3 separate regions of the Homo sapiens genome follow, and all the other regions are reported to be linked to region 1. Evidence: microRNA targets listed by miRTarBase, many of them from high-throughput screens and not tested one by one. Region 1 holds a microRNA gene; each other region holds the end of a gene's coding sequence. Distances are from middle to middle.
Evidence for each region. Region 1 holds the annotated microRNA hsa-miR-4251 (CCUGAGAAAAGGGCCAA, at 2,036-2,052, shown strand). A microRNA usually pairs through its seed, bases 2 to 8, with sites in the 3' UTR of a target mRNA and lowers its output. Matches are read on the target gene's strand: a 7mer-m8 pairs with bases 2 to 8, a 7mer-A1 pairs with bases 2 to 7 and ends in A, and an 8mer does both.

Region 2: miRTarBase lists MIER1 as a target of hsa-miR-4251. Seed matches in the 3' UTR shown: 7mer-m8 at 1,137-1,143.
Region 3: miRTarBase lists ZNF260 as a target of hsa-miR-4251. Seed matches in the 3' UTR shown: 7mer-A1 at 2,433-2,439.

What each region holds. Positions count from the first base shown.
Region 1 is chr1:3,125,974-3,130,123 of GRCh38, forward strand. MIR4251 (microRNA 4251) reads left to right here and starts at 2,002; the gene lies at 2,002-2,062. All of the region lies in intron 1 of PRDM16 (PR/SET domain 16), which reads left to right. RefSeq lists enhancers at 212-822, 2,266-3,191.
Region 2 is chr1:66,984,185-66,988,184 of GRCh38, reverse strand. It overlaps MIER1 (MIER1 transcriptional regulator), which reads right to left. Exons shown (of 14, transcript NM_001077700.3): 14 at 1-3,613. The coding sequence ends at 3,285. It also overlaps a transcript of SLC35D1 not described here. Among named protein-coding and RNA genes, the nearest start is that of MIER1, 61 kb to the right of the region's middle. RefSeq lists silencers at 3,412-3,612, 3,600-3,649.
Region 3 is chr19:36,510,584-36,514,583 of GRCh38, forward strand. ZNF260 (zinc finger protein 260) reads right to left here. Exons shown (of 3, transcript NM_001166037.2): 3 at 104-4,000. The coding sequence ends at 3,417. Among named protein-coding and RNA genes, the nearest start is that of ZNF260, 16 kb to the right of the region's middle.

The sequences.
Region 1 (4,150 bases):
TAGCGTTTGAGTGGCGGATCTTCCTGTGAAACCTTGTAGAGAGCCCGGGCAGTTATCTGATTATGCATTGATCGGGCTGGCTCGTCCTTAGGTAATCCTCTCCCTCTTGCAATCTGTGAATATACAACTGTTTAAATATTCCAAACCGAACTGTCTCAATAAACGCGGGGAGAAAGGGGCCATTGTGGGCCCGGGCGCCGCTGGCCGCTCTTCCCGGCCCAGCTCCCCTGGGCTTGCAGAGGCACAGTCGGTCCCCGCAGCTCTCGCCGCCGCCGCACGCGGCCAGCCTGGCTGTGCCTGGGAACAGTGTCGGCCAGTCTGGCCCCAGGCCAGCCCTGGCCACAGGTGCCAATGGCATCCTCCTCCCCAGGTCTCTCCCATGCCCCCGGGGGCTCAGTCCACTGCTCAGGTGGACAGGGCAAGGCCGGAGGAGCTGGCTGCAGGTGCGCAGGAAGGGACAGGCCTGGCTACCTGCAGGCAGCACCTGGGGTCCAGACAGCCCTCAACGAGGGACAGTCAGGTCAGATCAGGTGGACCCAGACCCTGCTGCGGTTCCTGGAATCCCTAGATGAGCTTTGAAAACCCAGGGGCCTGTACCCAATCCCAAGCAGTGGCCTACCGTGCTTGAGCTCTGTGGTGGGCAGAGGGCTGGGGACTGGACCAGGAGCCTCCAGCCCTGGGCTCTGTCAGGGACCCTGCCCTGTAGGGCTGGTGCTTCTGGAGTGAGGGAGGAGTAGACAGGAACCAGTCCTGGAGGTGGGCTCCCCACTGGGCCTGGGACAATGAGGTGCCCATCGCCAGTGATGGTCACAGCACCTCGAAAAGGCAGAGACAGGAAGATTCCAGAAGGGCTTCTGATTCTGTGCAGAAGCGTTGTAGATGGGGCATGGTTGCTCTGGTGTCAGGCCCGGGCCCGCTGTCTGTTCCGGCAAACTTTAGGGGATCGAGAGCTTACTCTGGACTCAGCTGGGAGGCCCCTCGAGCCTGGGAGCAGGGCAGGACCACCATCGGCCCCGGACACAATTGCTAGGGTCCTGTCCTCACACTCTGGCTCAGCCCAGCCTGGGCCCCGAGCTGGAGGCCTGCAGTGGGGACGAGACTTAGATGTTAGTTTTAAAATGAAAAGGGAAAGGCCAAGGAAAAGAGAGAGAGGCCCAGACGGTCTCTTGTTTTGCAAAACTCAAAATAGATTTCAGCACTGTGCTTTCTAAAGACAAATCTTTGCACTCTTCTGCGATCCTCGCTTGACCTCTCATGGTTTCTGGCAAGGACAGCCTGTTACGATTTGGCATCGAGTTATTTAAAATGCATAACGGCGGTGCGCAGGCTTTGCCAAAAGCTGATATATGTTGGTTTCTGGAACCTTGCTTTTCTTGTTTGCTACATCTGATATCATCTTACCCAGACGATGCCCTCGTGAGATAGATCCCCCACCCCTTCACATTGTGGGTGCAGCCAACGTATTTCATTTTATTGCTTGCACGATCTGTGTGTCTGGAGAGAAAGCAAACCAGTTACCAGCGAGCCACAGCCTAGCTTCCCCGGGCACTTGGGGAATCTTTATCGAGCTCAAATGATTAGACCTGGTTTCTGGTTTCATTTTGGAAGACTGGCTGCTAAGCAGATCCATTCTGCCTGTAAACTGATACAGATGCTCAGGGCCACTGCTTTCCCCAGTGCCCAGGACAGTAGGACGAGGGTTGAGAGGGACCCCCCTGGGCCATGTCCCCCTTGCGGTGCAGAGGCCCGGCCTGAATCTCTGAGCGAGAGGCCGGTTTGCCTAGGGTGAGTGTGAAGGCCTGAGGCCTGCCCCATAAAGGCAGAGCGTCCCCATGGTGTGGGGGGACAGTGGGAGGCGGGCAGGCCATGAGCCCTGGGTTCGGGGAGGCTGCAGGCGCTTGGCTGCCCATCAAGGGGCCTGGCTTCCTGGAACAGAAGCCTGGGTGCTGTGGCCATGGAGGAGGGGCTCCCGCCTCTGGTCAGCCTTCTGGCATCTGGGAACACGTCCTCCAGCTTTTTTCCTTAGTGGCCAATTCCTGAGAAAAGGGCCAACGTGCTTCCATCCACTTCAGAGGGCACTTGTATGAAAATCTCCTCCCCTCCCCCGTCAGCCCCGCTGTGGAGGGATCAACTCCGCCTCTCACTGGAGAGAGACAGTCATTCTGAGTGTTCGGAAATTGAAGACTAGATCTGGGTCTGGTTCCGTACCCATGCCCTGTGATGACAGACCCGTGATCTCTCTTCTGAGAGGGAAACAAAGACCTCACGTTTGACGGGGCCAAGAGGCAGCCGTGGGAATCTGCTGCTCACTTTCAACACTGGGTGCCTTGTCCTAGAAAGTCTGGGGTCGTCAGATCAACTTTGATTTCCTATTTTATCCCAGTTAAAGTGGCATTTATAGTATTCGGGGGTTGCTTCTGTCCTGCCTTTTTCTGATCACGACATCCCATGCACGGCTTTGGGAAACGCAGGTCACAGTAGCAGGGCATTGAAAACCCTCCCTCCGCATGGCTCCGCACCCAGGACCCTGGGGTGGCTCCACAGTGGCTCCATTTTCTCCCACAATGGTGACCTGCAGGCTCAGGGCATGAGGGCCGAGGACTCTCACTCGGGAACCCAGAGGGTGATCGGCCACGGTGACCGGCCGGTGAGCTGTGGAAGGAAGCGTCCAGCCCTCTGTGGACTGCCCTGTTCCTCCCACCATGCTACTGGAGACCATCCCACCATGCTACTGGAGACCATCCCACCCGGGTCGGTGGCTGTTTTCCGGTGGTGGCAACGCTCCAATGGCTCTGGTTCCCTTACTGGAATCCTTGGGCGTAGCCTGAAGAGTGGACAGCTATCCACAGCCCAGTGAGTGCCCTGCTGGGAGCTGGAACTGTTCGGCCCTCACTAACACCAGTCCTGGGGAGCCTGCCCTGGCCCCAGGTGGGGGTGCGCAGCCGTGGCCGGCAGCCTTGGTTTCTTCATCTGGGAAGTGGGAGCGACTGTGCAGATGAGATGAGGAGGGTGGCCCTGGGGAGGCTGGGGTGTGGTCGCTGCTCCCCTAGCAGGAAACCAGGAGGGAGTCTGGTGCATGTGTGTGTGGGGGGTTGCGTGTGCATGTGTGTGCGTTTCCTGGCTGGTGTGCGTGCATGGGTGAGTGTGCACGTGCGTGTGTGGGTGTCCTGCCTGGCGTGCGTGTGTGGGTGGGTGTGGATCCTGCCTAGTGTGTGGGTGTGTGGATATGTGTACATGTATGTGTGTGTCTTGGCTGGTATGTGCATGTGGGTGCGTGTGTGTGGGTGTGTACATGTGTGTGTGTGTCCTGCCTGGTGTGTGCGTGTCAGTGTCCTGCCTGGTGTGTGTGTGGGTGTGTGTCCTGCCTGGTTGTGTGTGTGTGCGCACGTGGGTGAGTGTGTGGGTGCGTGTGCACGTGTGTGTGTGTCCTGCCTGGTGTGTGCTTGTGAGTGTGTGTATCCTTCCTGGTGTGCATGTGTCTGTGTGTGCATGTGTGTGTGTGTGTGGCCTGTGCACTCACAACACTGGCTGAACCACAGGGGTGTCGTCCAGGGCTGCTGAGGGCACCTGGGAAAGGAGCCGGGGCAGACCCTCCCTGCTGGGTGCTTGAAGCTGAGGGTCAGGACGGGATGGGGACCCGGGGCCCTTGAAGCAGGTTCTCCCAGGTCCTCCGCAGTTACGTGGGAGAGCCCAAGGGCCCTCAGTGCCACAGGTAGGGGCAAGGTCCTCCTCTAGCACTGCCCAGACCCTGTACGGAGCAGAAATCCCTGGAAGAGAAAAGAGAATTGGGGTTTCAGAACCCCTTTTTCCAAGGAAAGAATTTCTCTGCTCCCAACAGGAGCCTGTCTGATTCTCTTTCCCCCTCTCTGTCTCTCTCTGTCTGATTTTCTCTCCTCTCTCAGTCTCTCTCTCTCCTACTTCCCGCTTTTGCTTTCCCTCTTCCCAGGGCCCCAGCAGGGTCTCAGCCATTTGTATCCACTGAGGGCATCCAAAAGCGTTGATGGGCCAAGGCGACCAGCTGGGCTGGGAGGGCAGTGCAGGCGGCTTGTTCTGGGACAGTGAGGCCCAAGCACCCCAGAGGGAGGTGGAGACCCCCTGGGCAGACTCCTGCTCCCCCAACAGGTCCTGGGCTGCGTGCTCAGTGTCCAGG
Region 2 (4,000 bases), 64 Mb from region 1:
GCATTTTTCATGAATATGGATTATAGTTGGGAAAACCTTACTATCTGATTTGGTATTTAGTTACACACCCCATGTAAATATTGCCTATTATATTCACCAGCCCTCAGTTATTCCAAGTGCCCACTCCTAATTATCCATCGATAGCAAAGAAAATATTGTGACAAAACAAGTTTTATTTTGCAAAACATAATGTGATATGAACTCCACTACAAAATACGGGAACACATTATTTTTAAATTATATAATCCAGCAGAAGAGAAACAGAGTGAATGGAGGTCTAGGGACTGAAAGGATCTCTTGTGGCAAAGGGGAAGAAGACAAAAATACATCACCCAAGATGTGGTAAAGGGGACCAAGAACCACTGAAAAAGTAGTGCAATATGTCTAGGAATAGAAGAAACAGACTGTGTATATATATATATTTGCCTTGTCAATAACATGCATCATTCAAACAATCTCTAATAAAATCTTAGTGAATTAATCTAATGAAAATATTCACACAGTATTATGTAGGCAAATATGTTTAAAAAAATATTTTAATAAGCATATTCAGAATGGCAGACAAGGAATGGGAGAAGGGAATTATTTTACAGTGCAAAATTACTATGCATAAATTTAACATCTAATTTGAAATTTTAAATGCCTATTTAAATATTACTTCAAATACATTTTAAAGCTCAACAAACTTGTGTTGAACTGAATTGCAGATCCTGAACTCTATTTGAAAATACATCATGAAACAGAAAATACCCATTCCAAATGAAAATGATAGTGCTTTGTTGGGGGTGGGAATGAGGCGGGGAGACTAAATCACTATTAACAGACTTCTTTTTCCAATGCAATTTGTCAAAAGTTCAAAAGTTCTGAAATGTACTAAATCTTAAGCAAATTAAATTCATGATATTACTAAAACTTTTTAAATAGTGCAATGACTTATCAAGTTATAGTGGCTGCATTAAGAACAAATTATTGTGTGAAATACCTGTATAAACACAAAATACAATTAAATATTTCTTTACAAAAAGCTGAGCATTACGCATAATAGTGGAATGTCTTTCATTAGGTGTATTTTTTAAAGATTAACAAAAGTAACATTTCCTAAAATGTATACATGTGCCATATTTTTGCAAACATGCCTGAGAATGTATTTAAAACATTTCTGTAGTAAGAGTTTGCAAGAACTTCACAAACCTGCAAATAAAATGCATCTTTTTAAAAAGGTGAAAATGGCATCTCCAACACTGCAACAATTCAAAAAGTACAGCATCCCTAATCTTTAAAAACATTTCTACAGACCATCTTTGACAAAGAGCTAGGATACTTTGGATTCATTTAATAAAAAATGATTTAGAAAACAGATTGTGACCATCTGCTTGCTAAAGCTACTGCCATTCTGGATAAATTAAAAGTTTTAAGTAAAACAAAAACAACAAAAAACTCATACTTCTCAACACTTCCACCCAAAACTTTGATTTACTTAGATATGTATGTAACAACAGTGAATGTACATTAAGATGAAGTCAAGTGTTGCAAAGTGGCTTTTAACACTGTTTGGGAAAAAAAGTTGTTCACATTGGTGAAGGGAAGCAGTCCGAACATATGTTAACAGTAATACTTCATGGGGGTAAGGCCTGAATGCTAATTTCTCAGTGCAAACCTTCACTCAATTACATCAGACAGTTGAGCCATTAAAAACAAGACCACAGAAGCTTTATTTTAAAAAGGCATTGGCTCTTGAACTGATGGCTGAAAAATGAACTGGAAGAAGCATTTGGAGTATGCCTGTGTGAGAAAAACAAGAATAATTAATATTTTATAAAAGTTTGGATATAGGTTGGTCTATCAGCTATATAAAACTACATTATTTAACAAGAATTTAGCACTAAAAATAAAATGGCACTTTTACAAGGCTATGCAGATGGATAATCCTATCTGTAATCACACAGAGCAATGATTATTGTGTATCTTATTTTCACTTTGGAAAAGCATTATCAAATCTGAAAAATTGGATTGTAACTAGAAAAGTTTGAAAAGTTTTCAAACTTCACTTTCTCTTCATAAAATCGATACTGCCTGCCAACAGTTGTTCCTTGTGTGTGCCAATATCTAAGTATCACTTGACCCCCCTCCTCTGTTTATTTAATGCAGAAATGGGAAATTTTATGATGCATATAAAAATAACAGGATTCTGGTCAGCATGATATATTTAAGCACTTAAGCTGACATTAAACTTTTGTCTTGCTTCAAAAATAATTTTGAAAATTATAGCAAATGCAAAACAAACTGCAATCTAAGCATCATGCTTAATTTCAGAATTCTCAAATTACTTGCCCTTAAGTAGAAATTTAAAAAAAAAAAAAAAAAAAAAAATTTTATAATCCTTTATGAATGCTTTAACCACCTGGATAAGAAATATGACTTAATTACTACACAAACACTTAAAAATTCATTAGAAAAACCTTAGCAAAATAAAATGAAAGCTGACAGACTCAGAATAACAATTCCTCTCATAAAAGTTTACCAACTGTACAAGTTAAGAAAATTATACACGCTTTTGTATTAAGAAAGGACAGCTCAGTCAAGACATATGTACTGTAAAAATCTTTCAAAGGCTACAAAGAATCTGGAAAAATACAGAATGTATTTCTTAAGCCCAGATAAGAATATGGAAAGACATCATTGATGTCAACAATTTTACATATACAAACCTGACCTGGTTTATTTTTAAACTTCTATATATAAAAAAATCATGCTAGCATAATTTTCAGGATTCGTAAGGGTTTCCTTAATAAAGATACTCAAACTGTTTGGTGAGAAAAATGTCTGTTTTAAAGACATTTCAAGAAACTCAGAGAAATTGGTATTAAGCAGAAATTTGGACTTGAGTTTCCCATTCATCCATCAAACTAAGCAAAAATTACCTTGTAGTGAAATTTTATGATTAATACATCAAATGAGAAGGTACAGATACATCTTTAGTTCATTCAGATTTACCAAAATTAGTAAATCTGAATGAACTAAAGATATTCAAATGAGAAGGTAGAGATATATCTTTAGTTCATTCAAATTTACTAATTTTTAAAATACCCTTAAAAGAGTCTGACAGCTTTAAAGTAAAAAAATCTGCAAAAGGCAGAATTATGAAACCTCATTTCCTAAAGTTAAGACTCAATTCAAATTTTCAAACTGCTTCAAGGAAATCAACTTTTTAAGGTAACCCATCAACCCTGAAAATTTTAGTCACACCAGAATTTACTCCAAAGAAAGTAAAATAGGTCTAAAATTTAGTCATCTGTGTTTTCAAGTTCTTCAAATTTCCCATGTGAGACTGCTTCTTGGAAAAATTCAGAAGAACCTGGACTTTCTTTTCCATTGCTGTTTACCCTTCGCCTTTTGGCAGGTCTCTCACTTTTTTCATCAAAATCATTTTCATTTCTTGCAGTCATATGGGCAAGTTTTGGGTCAGTGGTAAGGTTATCTGTTTCATAACCATTAGTATCCATATCTGCATGAAGTGGTTTCTTATTTCCACCTGTTGGTCCATTAATGTGTAACCCTTCAACTTTTACTTCCTCTTTGTTTAATATTTCACCTGGTCCATTAGATGACACTCCTAAGTTGAAAGAAATATAAATGAAACCACAATTAGAAAAAAGTTAAATTTGCAAACTATTATAAAACAGCTTGTAGTTATTGTTATCAAGGAAGCAAGGTATCAAATACATAGTCTAAATTCTTGCTCTATTACTTATAAGCTATGTCGCCTTAGGCAAATTATTTACTCTTTCTGTATCTCCATTTCATTACATATATACAATGAAGATCATAATAGATATTCCTCACAGGGTTGTTGTGAAAATTAAATAAGTTAATAAATGTAAAGAACTAAGAACAGAATTTGGCATATGTTAAAAGCATATTAGGTATATGTGACAGCAAACAAGCACTGGATCCAGCAGTCTAACTAAGCTGAATTAATGGAAAATGCAGTAAATTACTC
Region 3 (4,000 bases), not on the chromosome of region 1:
GACTCTGACAACATCTATTAAAAATTTTAAAATAACATCAATCCTTTGATCTACCAATCCCTTCCCTGTAATCTGACCCACAGAAATAAAAACAACTGAAATCTAAGGGGTGATTACATGAATTTTTATTGTACCATTTCTTATGGTGGCAAATAAGCAAACTGTGAGTAAACGAGGGCAGCTGAATAAATTTACAGTATACAATATTAGAGAATATTATGTTGCAATTGCTCATCTTACTCTGACCATCATAATCATTCTTTTTGCTGGGTCCAGGACCATGGCTAACTCATGGCACAAAAAGCTAGTCCTGGTTTGGTCTGAATTTGAGTCCTAGTTATTCTGGTGACTTCAAGGCTACCCAAGCACATGGGCAAAACACTTAAAAAATATGAAAGATTATTTAAGTAAAGCAAAATGAGGAACAGAAGAAGACAGTTTAGATTCATGTACACATACATATATTTTATTTGGGTATATTACCTCAGAAAATCAACAACTGTCATTTTCAATCTTATCTCAAGACCAACCTTCAGAAATGCTAGTAAGTGCTACAGTAATATTAACATTATATTGAGTTTAAAAGAAATTAATATATTTAAAATCAGTCTAAGGTTTTAATGCTGTATACCCATTTTCATAATCATTCAAAAACATCAGGCCGGGCACGGTGGCTCACGCCTGTAATCCCAGCACTTCGGGAGGCCAAGGTGGGCGGATCACCTGAGGTCGGGAGTTCAAGACCAGCCTTTGGAGAAACCCCATCTCTACTAAAAATACAAAATTAGCCAGGCGTGGTGGCTCACACCTGTAATCCTAGCACTTTGGGAGGCCGAAGCAGGTGGATCACCTGAGGTCAGGAATTCAAGACCAGCCTGGCCAACATGGTGCAACTCCGTCTCTACTAAAAATACAAAATTAGCCGGGCATGGTGGCGCATGCCTGTAATCCCAGCTACTCAAGAGGCTGAGGCAGGAGAACCACTTGAACCTGTGAGGCAGAGGTTGCAGTGAGCCAAGATTGTGCCATTGCACTGCAGCCTGGGCAACAAGAACAAAACTCCGTCTCAAAAAAAAAAAAAAATCATTAGTAGCGTTCTCTGTCAGTTTATTGTGGAAAGAAATCAAGTAAACAAATTCTCAAAAAGATTTGCTTCAAATAAGAGAACACTGTTTAGGTGGAAGATCTCCTTTTTCAGCACGGTCTTCCCAAGGTAACAAGGGGGTTGGGATTGACTTGGGTGTGTCTGACATAATTGAGAAAGAAATTTAGTCTGCAGGTTAAAAGTGAAGCTGAAATCCAGGAGTTAATGTTTTCCTCAATGGCTTATAAAAAAATTGAAGAGTGACACAGTTTTCTCATTTTAAAAGTGGCTAATTTCTAATGCTAATACTGGTTATGCAGAGTATTAAAATTTCTGATAAATGTTTTAGTAAAAACTAATTCTCTCCATGTCTGTGCATATATTATTTAATAATATGATCCTTAAATGTATGTGATCCAACCAATCTGTGGCAAATCATAACCTCCAAGACTATATACAGATTAGAACTACGTACAGATTATGTAAAATTTACTCTTGTGACACATGAGTTATTTTAATTGAATTTAAGTTGCCACCCCAATTAAAAATTATTTCATATTTTAAAGATAAGATTTTAGAAATATCTTCTACAGAATATTAGTATCTGACTAGGAATGTAAGTCCATTATGTTTCATGTACAGCTTCCTCACTCCTATCTGGACTTTTTAACTTTCAGAAGTTTAAGGAAATAAATAGCACGAATGATAGAATGAACACAAATATTACCACCACCCAGAATTAATATTTCGTTATGTTTACTTAGAATGTTTCTTTTTAATAAGAAATAGATACAAAATTGAAGTATCCTTTAACTACCATGCTTGGTAACATTTCCCTTCCACCTCCTTTCTTCCTAGAGGTAACCACTCCACTTTTGGGAACTGAGTATATACATATCCTTTCAATCCATTCTTTAGTTTTACATAATTTATCCATAACCAATTCTTAGTACTAGGGCTGGTTAGTGTTGATTTTATTCAAATTCACAGAAGCATCATTACAATATGTTCATCATTTTTCTTCACTCTAATTTTTTAAAAATATTTCTGTTAATATATAGACTTAATTTGTCACTTAACTGCTAGAGAGTACTCTACTATGTTACTATCACATTTTATTCATCTATTTCACAAGAGACAGCATTTGTTTCCCAACTTCTGGCTACTATAACTCATGGTGCAATGAACTATACAGCTATAGACCAGTACATGACTCCCTGTGTTCATGTTTCTTGGGTAGATGCATATATATAGTAGTTCCCCCTTATCCACAGCTTTGCTTTCCATGGTTTCAGTTACCTGTAGTCACCACAGTTCATAAATAGTTGAGAACAGTACAATAAGGTATTCTGAGAGAAAGATCATATTCACATAACTTTTATGATTACAGTATATTGTTATAATTGTTCCATATTATGTTTATTATTGTTTTAAATCTCTTGCTGTGTCTAATCTGTAAACTAAATTTTATCATAGGTATGTATATATAAGAAAAAAACATAGACATAGAGTTTGGTCCTATCTGGGTTTTAGGTATCCACTGGGGGTCTTAGAGTCCATCTCTTGCAGAAAATAGGGGACTACCATACTCAAGAGTGGAACTACCGGGTATTCTGGAATGTTTTAGAAGTTCTTTCCTGCCCTAAGGTTTTAAAAACATCTTCTTATAAAACTGTTATATTATTAAGTATTGCTTTTTGCATTTTAGTCTTTAGTACTTTAAGAATTCATAAGAAAAATATTTTATATTATGATGGGAGATATTATTTTTCCATATGAAGAGTCAATTAATTTTTAAGTAATCCATGATTTCCCCACCAATCTGGGATACCGCCTCTATCAATTACCAATTCCCCATATATTCATGCACACATTTCTGAATTCAATATTCTGTCTCAGTCTCAGTTTTATGACTGCTTCAACAACAAATAATTTTGATGATTCTAGTTTTACAATTCATATATGTAGCAAAACATCACAAAAATGATAATTTTGTCTCTTAATTTCAAATCCTCATACATCTCATATCTATTTCTTAATGCATCTGTAGGCCTTCCAGGAACACATTAAGTAGTGTCCATGACTAGATCCTAACTTTAATGAGTATACTCCTAGAAGTACAGCATTGATAATGCTTGTTGTGGGAGTTTTGGGGGTACGGGTTTTCTTTACACTATAATACTTATTAAACATCATAGTATTTAAGTTTTGAATTGCTGCTGAAGGACTTCCCACATTCATGTCACTTTAATGTAAAATGAATTTTCCAATACACTATTAAGTGTAAAATCTGCTGAACGTTTTGCTAAATCCAAGGCATTCATAGAGAACTTTAATGAGTATGAATTCTCTGGTGTCTAATGTGATGTGACTTTTGGCTGAAAGCTTTCCCACATTCACTACACTGATAAGGTTTTTCACCAGTATGGATTCTCATGTGCAGAGCAAGGGTTGAGAACTGAGAAAAGGCTTTCCCACATTCATTACAACCATAGGGTTTCTCACCTGTATGGCTTCTCATATGCACAGTAAGAGATGAGCTTTGACAGAAGGCTTTCCCACAGACCTTACACTCATAAGGCTTATCACCTGTATGAATTCTCACATGTACAATAAGTGATGTGATTCGAGAGAAGGCTTTTCCACATTTATTACATTCATAGGGTTTCTCTCCTGTATGAATATTGTGATGTTTAATGAGGTATTGCTTCTGCCTGAAGATTGTTCCACATTCATTACATTTGTAGGGTTTCTCTCCAATATGAATTTTCTCATGCTCTGTGAGATTTGACTTGCCACTGAAGGCTTTCCCACATTCCTTACACGTATAAGGTTTCTCTCCTGTGTGACTTCTCTGGTGTCTAATGAGGCTTGACTTCTGAATGAAAGCTTTCCCACACCCTTTACATTCATAAG